Regions from separate parts of the Homo sapiens genome. Here region 1 is linked to region 2. A link means that fine-mapping ties the variant in region 2 to the expression of a gene that starts in the linked region. Tissue or cell type: whole blood. Region 2 holds a variant in brackets; the other region holds the start of a gene. All regions are shown on one strand. Distances are between the middles of the regions.

The links. PIP is the estimated chance that this variant, and not a neighbour inherited with it, causes the effect.
Region 1: it holds the start of PRR29, and the variant in region 2 is fine-mapped to the expression of PRR29 in whole blood (TOPMed, PIP above 0.99).

What each region holds. Positions count from the first base shown.
Region 1 is chr17:63,995,730-64,001,636 of GRCh38, reverse strand. It overlaps PRR29 (proline rich 29), which reads right to left and starts at 3,286. Exons shown (of 6, transcript NM_001164257.2): 1 at 3,213-3,286; 2 at 2,855-2,930; 3 at 2,563-2,669; 4 at 327-553; 5 at 100-170. The coding sequence starts at 3,272. PRR29-AS1 (PRR29 antisense RNA 1) reads left to right here and starts at 1,738. Exons shown (of 3, transcript NR_126169.1): 1 at 1,738-3,312; 2 at 3,715-3,872; 3 at 4,374-5,566. RefSeq lists an enhancer at 2,123-3,100 and a silencer at 3,354-3,403.
Region 2 is chr17:64,017,165-64,022,164 of GRCh38, reverse strand. It overlaps ICAM2 (intercellular adhesion molecule 2), which reads left to right and starts at 1,532. Exons shown (of 5, transcript NM_001099789.2): 1 at 1,532-1,642. RefSeq lists enhancers at 1,093-1,142, 1,363-1,452, 1,198-1,698, 1,793-1,912. The variant G/A (reference allele first, on the strand shown) is at 2,033.

The DNA.
Region 1 (5,907 bases), 21 kb after region 2:
GTTAGGAAACCCCCAAACCCCACCAGAGGGCACAGGGCCCTCCTGGCCTCCTGATTCACTCCCAGGCCTGGGCCCCGCTGCCCACCACCCCAGCCCTACCTGAAGCCGGGGGTACATCAGCACCCACAGTCCCTGTGGCACTGGGGGGTGGGGGTGGGGGCACAGCTCTCCTGAGATGGGGGAAAGAAAAAGACCCCCATCAGAGGCCCAGGGGTGGCCTCTGGAGTTTCACCCACAAGTTATCTCCACCGACCACCAGCCCCTGCACAGCTCTTCTGCAACTTCCAGCCCAGAGCAGAACCCTGGCAGCACCCAGCCTCACTTACACCTCCCTTTCCCTGGAGGCAGGACAGTGCTGAATCCTGGGCACGTCCTGCAAGTAGGGCTGACAAGCAGGGGTGGGGAAGAAGGGGGCTGGCCAGGGCAGCAGGGCACCCGGGGAGGGCATCAAATAGGGCAAGTAGTGGTGGTGAAACACCAAAGGCCCTTTCTCCCGCACGTCCATCTCCTCCTCCTCCTCCTCAGGCTCTTCCTGTGGAACCTCCAGGTAGACCTGGGGATTGTGCAAAACAGGGAGGGGAAATGAGAATCTACCATCAGGCTCTCCCCACCGCCACTCCTCCATTCCCCTAAGTTATTTCCTCCAGATAGGCTTTGTAAGAATGGCTTGTGGCCAGGCATGGTGGCTCACGCCTGTAATCCCAGCACTGTGGGAGGCCGAGGCGGGCGGATCACAAGGTCAGGAGATTGAGACCATCCTGGCTAACACGGTGAAACCCCGTCTCTACTAAAAATACCAAAAAAAAAAAAAAAAAAATTAGCTGGGCATGGTGGTGGGCGCCTGTAGTCCCAGCTACTCAGGAGGCTGAGGCAGGAGAATGGCGTGAACCCGGGAGGCGGAGCTTGCAGTGAGCAGAGATCGAGCTACTGCACTCCAGCCTGGGCGGCAGAGCGAGACTCCATCTCAAAAGAAAAAAAAGGAAAAAAAAAAAAAGAATGGCTTGTGTAGGCGGGGCGCGGTGGCTCATGCCTGTAATCCCGGCACTTTGGGAGGCTGAGGCGGACGGATCACAAGGTCAGGAGATCGAGACCATCCTGGCTAACATAGTGAAACCCCGTCTCTACTAAAAACACAAAAAAGTAGCCGGGTGTGGTGGCAGGCGCCTGTGGTCCCAGCTACTCGGGAGGCTGGGGCAGGAGAGTTGTTTGAACCCAGGAGGTGGAAGTTGCAGTGTGCCGAGATTGCATCACTATACTCCAGCCTAGGTGACAGAGAGAGACTCCGTCTCAAAAAAAAGAAAAAGAAAAGAAAAGAAAAAAAGAATGGGTTGTGTTTATTGAGCGTTTACTACATGCGGACAACAAATTGTGGAGACATTTACTCCTGTAGCTCAAGGACGTTGAGCAACTTGGCCACCCAGTTGATTCCAGGTGTGACCCCCAGAGCTGGGGCCAGGAGTCCACTGAGCTGTCCCCGGCCTCACCCCCGGCCCCTGGACCCACCTATGTGTCATCACTGAGGACCCAGGGGTGAGGGGTGGCAGTAGCTCCTCAGGGTCTCCTTCTGTCTGGATTCCTTGAACCCCTCTCCGCCTCCTCCGAGCTGAACAACATTCTCTCTCCACCCAGTCCCTGCTTCTCCTGACCTCAGGATGCCCACTATTGGCTGAGTAAGGCTCAGCCTTAGAGCTATATGCACATGCATGCACACACACGCTTGCACACACCCCCACTTGCACACACTTGCTTGCACGCACACACTTGCTTGCACGCACACACTTGCCTTCACAACCCGCTCGCACACACGTGCACGCACACCCTTGCACACGCACGTGAACACACACTTGCACACACATATGCATGTACACAGCCTTGCACACACACACGCATGCACACAGACACCCACTTGCACACACATACACACACACACTCTTGCACACACACACTGCCGCACACGGTTTCCCCCATTCTGTCTCCTGACTCTGCCCCTGCCAGCCTGGATGGGGGACACACCCTTCGCCTCCTCCAAGGGTCAAAATCCTACCTGGCTTTCAAGGGCTGGTTCTAAGATCCTCTGCTCCTCCAAGGAGCCTGTCCCCATCCCCCAACCCTATGTGCACTTGTGCTTTGTACCTCTCCATGTGCCATCACAGCCAACCTGGCTTTGTATCCCTAACCATTCATTTATTCATTCACTCGTTCAACAAATATCAGCTGAGCCCCTACACGGTGTCAGGCACCAGGCCAGACGCTCATGATGCATGGGGCAGGGTTACCAGGGTGCCTACCTTCCTGGAGCCTTAAGTCCAGTGGGGGAGGCACTACAGGGAAACCTCCTTGAAAACAAGACCTCGGTGGTCTGGACTTTGGGGGGTCTCTTCCCCGCCCCAACCTTTCATGGAGGCTGAAACATGACAGATGCCAAACAGCCCCAGCCAGAGAGACGGGCTGGCTTCCTGCTCCTCTGTCTCCCAGTTCTTTTCCCCCCTGAACAGGAACCCCAGGTGGATCCGCATCCCTGGACCCACAGGTGAGCGACCCCGGCGGCCCACCCACACGCACCTGAGGGCAGGGCGAGGCAGGCCGGGGCTGCAGCGCTCCAGCCACCAGGCGACTCAGCAGCAGCTGGTGCATCTGCGCGTTCTGCAGCATCATCAGTTCCAGCAGGTCTAGGAAGCGGGGTTCAGCAAGCCCACGCCGGGCCTCCGAGTCCCCCTCCCCCTGACACCCCTGTCCCGGGGGTGAAGAATGGGTTGGCGGGTTGTGCTGCGGGGACTCCCAGAGGATGTGCGAGGCAGAAGAGGGTGAGTGGTGGTGATGGTGGGGGTGGGGTGGGGGGACCCGGGAGTCTCACCTTCCTTCACGCGGCCTGGCTGCGGGGGCGCAGGTGGGACGGCCCACGAGAGGGGCTGCAGGAAGGTGACCCAGGGCTGGGGGTGTGCGCGGAGTCAGCCAGGTGGGGTGGGGGGAATGGATGGGGACACGTCGCGAGCCCCAACCCCCCCGGCCAGTGGCCTCCCTAACCCCGCAGGGGCCAGGTTCTCTCCTCCCCGCCCCGCGGCCTCCCTGCTCCCTGCCACGCCTCTTCCTCTCGGTTTGGGGCTGTCTCTCCTCGTCCCCCACCCCTCCAGGATCTGGCCCCTCCAGGGACAGCTCCCCACTCTGCCGTCTCCCAAGCTAAGGCAGGATCTGCTCCCGGGCTCAGCCCTCACCGTCGGGACTGCGCTCTGCGGTGGGGAGCGACCCCAGCTTCCGCCCGCCCCAGAGGCCATGGCTGGCGCCGGTTGCCTTGGCGACGCCGAGGACGCCAAGGTCTCTTCCCACGCATGCGCGGAGCCCGCCCGTGCTCCTGGGTCTTCCATCTCCCTGCTCCCTCCTGTCTCCTCCTCCGCGGACTTGGGGTCCCCAGGAGCCCTCCCCCGCCACCAGGAGGCCAGTCTCCTCCCCGGCATGTCCACCTCCCGCCGCGCTGCTCGGGGCTCCCCTCCCCTCCCCTTGCTGGTTCCCAGAACTGGGCCTGGGTTAGTGCGGGGAAGGGGGGTGTGTTTGTTGAGTGAATAAGCGAGTGACTGGGGAGGCTTGGTTTCGGGGTCCCAGAGCCCGATTGACTCAGCTGAAAAGTTCAGGAGAAACAGAGACTTTTGCAGGAGCAGGCTGGGGGCTAGGGCAGACGAGTGAGGAGGACAAAGGGTCTGTTCCCTGTCACTCTGACAGAGAGAGGGGCTTCCTGCCAGGAAAGAGTGGTTTCTGGAGCAGACCAAGGAAGGAAACACCGCCCGAATTCACGGAAGAGGCTGAGGACTCTGGCTGGAAACACGTGGCCGGCTTCTCGCCTCTCTCCTTGCGGCTATTTGCCCTGTTTCCTGGCCAAGGTGAGCCACTGCTCCTCAGACGAGGAAAATCGTGGTGACTTCAGCACCCGCGTCCCCAGTACTGTCTCCCGTACTGGAAAAGTTACCAAAGCACGCGTTCTTTTGACAGGAAGTTAGCAAGGTCTTCCTTGCTTAAGAACAGGTGAAGGGGGAGATCTATTTCTGCAGCTGTGACCATCCTAAGATAGGCCCCCGGCAGCAGTCAAGGAAAATCCAGACAGGAAGCTGGGCTTAGCACCCCGAGTAGCCCTTCCCCCACTCTCCATGTCAGCTCCCCTTCCTGCCAGTCCTGGAGTAAGAACCAGAAAGACCATTCCCACCTCCTCCTTTGCTCCGTAGTACCTGTCTCTAGGGGAGCAGGCTTGTGGGCATTACTTTACTGTCCCCATGGGTCTTATGGCTTCAACAGCCATTAACAAGCTGAGATCCAGGCACTGGGGTCACAGCCCCCCAGTGAGTAGAACACAGAGATGCCTCTCTCCATCTCCATTCTCATTCCAGGTAGAAAGAGAACAAGCCATTTTGCTCATCATCAACAAACCTTGACCAAGGAAGTGTCTGCGTGTGCAATGTGCCATCTGAACCCTGGAGGCATAAGCAGTATGGTCACTTGTCCCAGCATTGTTGGGAAGTGAAAATGTATCCATGGAAAGAGAGCAGAAAGATAAGACTACGCCCCGGGGATAATGAAAAAGAGAGGACTTGACCGCTGAGGGATGGAGTTCCAAGGAAGTCAGTCCTTGATGGGGCCAAGCAGCAGGGGAAGACGGGCGCTATCAGGCTGGGGACAGAGCCCAAGCCAAGACCCAGGTGTATGAATGGACAGGACCTGAGATGACCCGGTGGGTCAAACTGTCTGACTGTAGAAGAGGAGCTGGGCAGAGAGCAGAGGTCCAGGGACAGGCCAAGGTTTGGAATGCCAAGGTTTGGAATTTAGGCTTGGCCCTGTGGGTAATGGAGAGCTATCAGTGGGTTTCAAGCAAAAGGGAGATACCAAGTGCTGTGGCCAGCCATGTTTCAGGAAGATTGTTCTTGTCCACCTTTGTTTATGTCAACCACATTTAGAAGTAACAAATGTCTGATAGGGGGTCAGGTGCGGTGGCTTGTGCCTATAGTGCCAGCTACTCAGGAGGCTGAGGCAGGAGGATCGCTCAAGCCCAGGGATTCAAGGATGCTGTGAGCTACGATCACGTCACTGCACTCCAGCCTGGGAAACAGGGTGAGACCCAGTTTCTAAAACAAACGAACAAACAAATGTCTGATGGGGATGCATCCTCCCAATAGAATACTATTCAACCATGGATAATGTGGGAATAGAATATCTCTGTTGATGTGAAAAGTTGTCCAAGACAGTTGAGTCAAAAATATCAGTAAGCATAGTAAGATCTTATTTTTGTTTTAAAAATCATATGCATAAGTCCAGGCACGGTGGCTCACGCCTGTAATCCCAGCAGTTTGGGAGGCCAAGGCAGGCAGATCACTTGAGGTCAGGAGTTCGGGACCAGCCTGGCCAACATGGTGAAACCCTGTCTCTACTAAAAATACAAAAATTAGCCGGGAGTGGTGGCGGGTGCCTGCAATCCCAGACACTCAGGAGGCTGAGGCAGGAGAATCGCTTGAACCTGGGAGGTGGAGGTTGCAGTGAGCCGAGATCATGCCACTGCACTTCAGCCTGGGCAACAGAGACTCCATCTAAAAAAAAAAAAAATTCATATGCATATACATGTGTGTATGTACATGTGTGTGTGTGTGAATACACATACACACACACACACAGATCCAACTGTGGAGCAGCTGTCAGAGTTGGCCGACCCGCAGCCTCCCCTAGAGTCTTCTGCAGAGGGTTCCTGCCCTCACCTACAGCCCCTCCACCTGAGGACACCTGGCCACAGGTAAGACAGGCCAGAAGGTGGCACAGGAGCAGCCCACAAGCAATAATGGATGGGAGTTGATAGCTAAACTCGCAGCCTCCTGGTCTCAGTGCGACAACTCTGAGGTGTCTCCCACAGAGCCTCTCAGTGATGCCTGTGGGCTT
Region 2 (5,000 bases):
GGCACACACGCACAATAGGATATTGCTCAGCCTTCAAAAGGAAGGCAGTTCTGGCCAAGCGTGGTGGTTCATGCCTGTAATACCAGCACTTTGGGAGGCTGAGGTGGGCGGATCATTTGAGGTCAGGAGTTCGAGACCAGCCTGGCCGACATGATGAAACCCCATCTCTACTAAAAATACAAAAATTAGCCAGTCGGCACGTGCCTGTAATCCCAGCTACTCAAGAGGCTGAGGCAAGGCCAGGCACGGTGGCTCATGCCTGTAATCCCAACACTTTGGGAGGCCAAGGCGGGCGGATTGCCTGAGCTCAAGAGTTTGAGACCAGCCTAGGCAACATGGTGAAACCCCATCTCTGCTAAAATACAAAAGAAATTAACCAGGCGTGGTGGCGTGCACCTGTAGTCCCAGCTACTCAGGAGGCTGAGGCAGGAGAATTGCTTGAACTCGGGAGGCGGAGGTTGCAGTGAGCCGAGATCACACCACTGCACTCCAGCACTCCAGCCTGGGCGACAGAGTGAGGCTCCATCTCTACAAAACAAACAAACAAACAAACAACAACAACAACAACAAAAACACTGAGGCAAGAGAATCGTTTGAACCTGGGAGGCAGAGGTTACAGTGAGCCAAGATCACACCACTGCACTCCAGCCTGGGCAACAGAGCGAAACTCCATCTCAAAAAAAAAAAAAGAAAGAAAAGAGAAAGAGAGAGCTCCAGAGATGGATGGTGGTGATGGTTGCAGAACAATGTGAATGTACTTAGTGCCCCAAACTGTACACTTAAACATAATTAAAATGGGCCTAGCACGGTGGCTCATTCCCAGCATTTGGGAGGCTGAGGTGGGAGGATTGCTTGAGCTCAAGAGTTTGAGACCAGGCTGGGCAACATAAGCAACACTCTGTCTCTACAAAAACTACAGAAATTAGCCAAGCCTGGTGGCTGCACACTTGTAGTCCCAGTCACTTGGGAAGTTGAGGAGGGAGGGTCACTTGAGCTCAGGGGTCAGAGGTTGCCACGAACTGTGATTGTGCCACTGCACTCCAGCCTAGGTGACAAAAGCAAGACTCTGTCTTAAAAACAACACAACAAAAAATTGGCTGGACGCAGTGGCTCTTGCCTGTAATCCTAGCACTTTAGGAGGCCGAGGAAGGCAGTTCACTTGAGGTCAGGAGTTCGAGACCAGCCTGGCCAACATGGTGAAACCCTGTCTCTACTAAAAATACAAAAATTAGCCAGGCGTGGTGGCAGGTGCCTGTGGTCCCGGTTACTCTGCGGGCTGAGGCACAAGAATCACGTGAACTCGGGAGGCAGAGGTTGCAGTGAGCCGAGATCACACCACTGCACTCCAGCCTGGGTGACTGAGACTCAGTCTAAAAAAAAAAAAAAAATTGAAATGGTAAATTCTGTTGTGTACGTTTTACCACAATTAAAAAAAAAAAAAGCGGAATGGGAGTGGAGCTAAATGAGGCTAGTTTAGGGTGGGAACCGGGGCACAGGAAGCACGTCACTTCTGGTGGGGAGTGGGGGGAGGGAGAAGACTGAATAAGCCGTGAACTGGGCAGCTGTGACACGCGCACCTTGTCACCTTGTCACCAATTTCCTGCCCGGGATCCCAGAGCTACCCTTCTTGGAGCCCACAGGGGTAAGGTTGAGCTTCTCACTTTCCCTCCAATGAAGCGTGGCAGCATGGGAAGGATTTTGGCAGTGTCGAGGTCTGAGTTTTAGTCCGTTCCCCTCTCTGGGTCTCAGTTTCTCGCTGGTAAGTGCAGGGGTTGGGGAATCCCCAGCGCTCCTGTGGCTCGACATTCTGCACTCTGTGAAGCTCCTGCCCTGCCCTGCTGGGTCTCTGAGCTCACGCACTTGCCCTGGCGCTCCTTTCCTGATTTGTCTCCCCTCTCTCCTTCCTCTGCTCTGCCATCTCGGTGGCCGATGTAGAAATGTGGGGCTGCCTCCTTATTTAGGGGCCCACGTGGGCTGTGATCTGGACCATCTGAGCTGATGCAGAGGGGAAGGGACAGTCCCTGTTCTCCCC[G/A]GCAGGCGTGGTGGGTTCATAATGAATCTCAGTCACTCACTTCCTACCTGCCTCGGTTCGAGGGGGTCTTTCCTAACCCATGGCTCACATTCCCATGAAGCCTCTTCTTTCTAGGCACGTAGAAAGGCCCTTTTTCCCTTTTATTATTTTTGTAAAATTTACTAGGTAACGCATAAAAAGCTTATGTAACATACATATACATCATACTGCACAGTAATATACCAAACACACCTGAAGCTGCCACTCAGCACAAGGATGGAGTATCACCAAACTGCAAACACCACTTATCTGCTTTTTTTTTTTTTTTTTTTTTTTGAGACAGAGTTTTCATTCTTGTCGCCCAGGCTGGAGTGCAGTGGCACAATCTTGGCTCACCACAACCTTCGCCTGCTGGGTTCAAGCGATTCTCTTGTCTCAGCCTCCCAAGTAGCTGGGACTACAGGTGCGCATGCCACCATGCCCAGCTAATTTTTGTGTTTTTGGTAGCGACAGGGTTTCACTATGTTGGCCAGGAGAGTCTCGATCTCTTGACCTCATGATCCGCCCACCTCGGCCTCCCAAAATGCTGGGATTACAGGCGTGAGCCACCACACCTGGCCACCACTTGTCCACTTTTATGCTACTTGCCTCCCACCCACAGGTAGCCACCCTCTGGAATTTTGTGTTTATTGTTCTCTTATTTTTAAGTGCTTTATTACATATGCATCTCTATTTATTTATTTATTTATTTATTTACTGAGATGGGGTCACACTATATTTCCCAGGCTGGAGTGCAGTGGCTATTCACAGGCATGATCATAGCACACTACAACCTCGAACTCCTGGGATCCAGTGATCTTCCCACCTCAGCCTCCTGATTAGTTGGGACTACAGTCTTGAACTGCTGCACCTGGCTATGCCTATTTATTTTTATTTTATGAAACAGTTATATAGCGTTACTGTGTGCTAGGCACTGTTCTAAATGCTTTAAAATATTTACTTATTTTATTTGTTTAATCTGCACAAAAACCCTATGAGGAAGATACTATTATTGATTCCTTTTTGCAGATGAGGAAATTGAGGCACAGAAAGATTAAGTGATTTGCTCAAGGTCACACAGATAGTGAGAAGTAAGGCCGGGAGCAGTGGCTCATGCCTGTAATCCCAGCACTTTGGGAGGCCAAGGCAGGAGGATCATGAGGTCAAGAGATAGAGACGGTCCTGGCCAACAAGATGAAACCCCATCTCTACTAAAAATACAAAAATTAGCTGGGTGTGGTGGCGTACGCCTGTAGTTTCAGCTATTCGGGAGACTGAGGCAGGAGAATAGCTCGAACCCGGGAGGTGGAGGTTGCAGTAAGCCAAGATCGCGCCACTGCACTCCAGCCTGGGCGACACAACGAGACCCCGTCTCAAAAAAAAAAAAAAAAAAAAAAAAAAGAGAAGTAAACACAAAGACATGTCTGGTTCTTAGTGTGACAGCGTTTCTAGGGCATACATCTAAGAATGGAACTGTGAGTTACAGGGTATAAGAATATTCCGTTTACAAGATAATGCCTAATTATCTCTGAGAGCACCAATATACACTCTCATCAGCAGTTAGAAGGGTGCCTATTAACCTACGGCCTCTCCAACAATTGGTCTTGTCATATTTCTTAACTTTTGCCAACCTAATACATATAAAATAGTATCGGTCCCATTGTAATTTTAATTTTAATTTCCCTGGCTACTCGAGCTAAATAATCTTTTCACTTGTTTAGACATGTTTCCTTTTCTTTGAAATGTTTCTTTGTGTCTTTTTTTTTTTTTTTTTTTTTTTTGAGATAGAGTCTCACTCTGTCACCCAGGCTGGAATGCAGTGTCGCGATCTCAGCTCACTGCAAGCTCCGCCTCCTAGGTTCACGCCATTCTCCTGCCTCAGCCTCCCGAGTAGCTGGGACTACAGGTGCCCGCCACCATGCCTGGCTAATTTTTTTGTATTTTCAGTAGCGATGGGGTTTCACCATGTTGGCCAGGATGGTCTCGATCTTCTGACCGCGTGATCAGCCCGCCTCGGCCTCCCAAAGTGCTGGCGTCACAGCCGCACCCGACCTGTTTCTTTGTATCTTAGTCAAAGATACCAATTGTTGATTTTATGATTGACAATTTCGAGGTCTTGCCCCAAGGATATGGAAATACTCTCCTACATTTTCTTATAAAGAGTTTCTTTCACATATAAATCCTTAATCTAAATGGAATTGATTTCTATATTTGGTGTGAGATAGGGATACATTTTCCCCTTTTTTTCTCTATATGGTTAATCAATTGATCCTGTGTCATTTAACAGGCTCTTCTCTTACCCAGTGATCTTCTATGTCATCTTTGTCATGCATCAAAGTTTCAAACAAGCATAGGTGTATTTCTGGGCTCTTTATTCTGTTTCATCAGTTAATTTGCCTATACCTACGCTAACACCATATTTTACAGAAAGTCTTAATATCTAGCAGAGCAAATCCCTCACCTTATTCATTTCCTTTAGGGGCGTCTTGGTTCTTTTGTTCTTCCATATAAACCTTAAAATCAGCTTTCAGTTTCCATGAAAAACCCTACTGGGGTTAATTGGAATTGCACTGACCCTATAGATCAGTTACAGAATAATTTACATCTTTATAATATTGAATTTCCTATCCATGAACATGTGTTATCTCTCCATTTATTTAGATTGTCTTTAATATTTTTCAATAAAGTATTATAATTTTCTTACTATAGGTCTTATAGTTCTAGGTTTTGTTAGTTTTCTTGCTCTACTTTTTTGACTGTTATAATTGATGTATTTTTTAAATTATGTTTTTGTATGTTACTGATACACACAAGAACAACCAATTTTTGAATATTGATCTTTTAGCTAGTTGCCTTGCTAAAATCTCTTATTACTTTGAGTCACTTGCCTGATGATTCTTTTGGATTTTCTACCTGGGTAGTCACGCCATATACAAATACCGATGGTTTT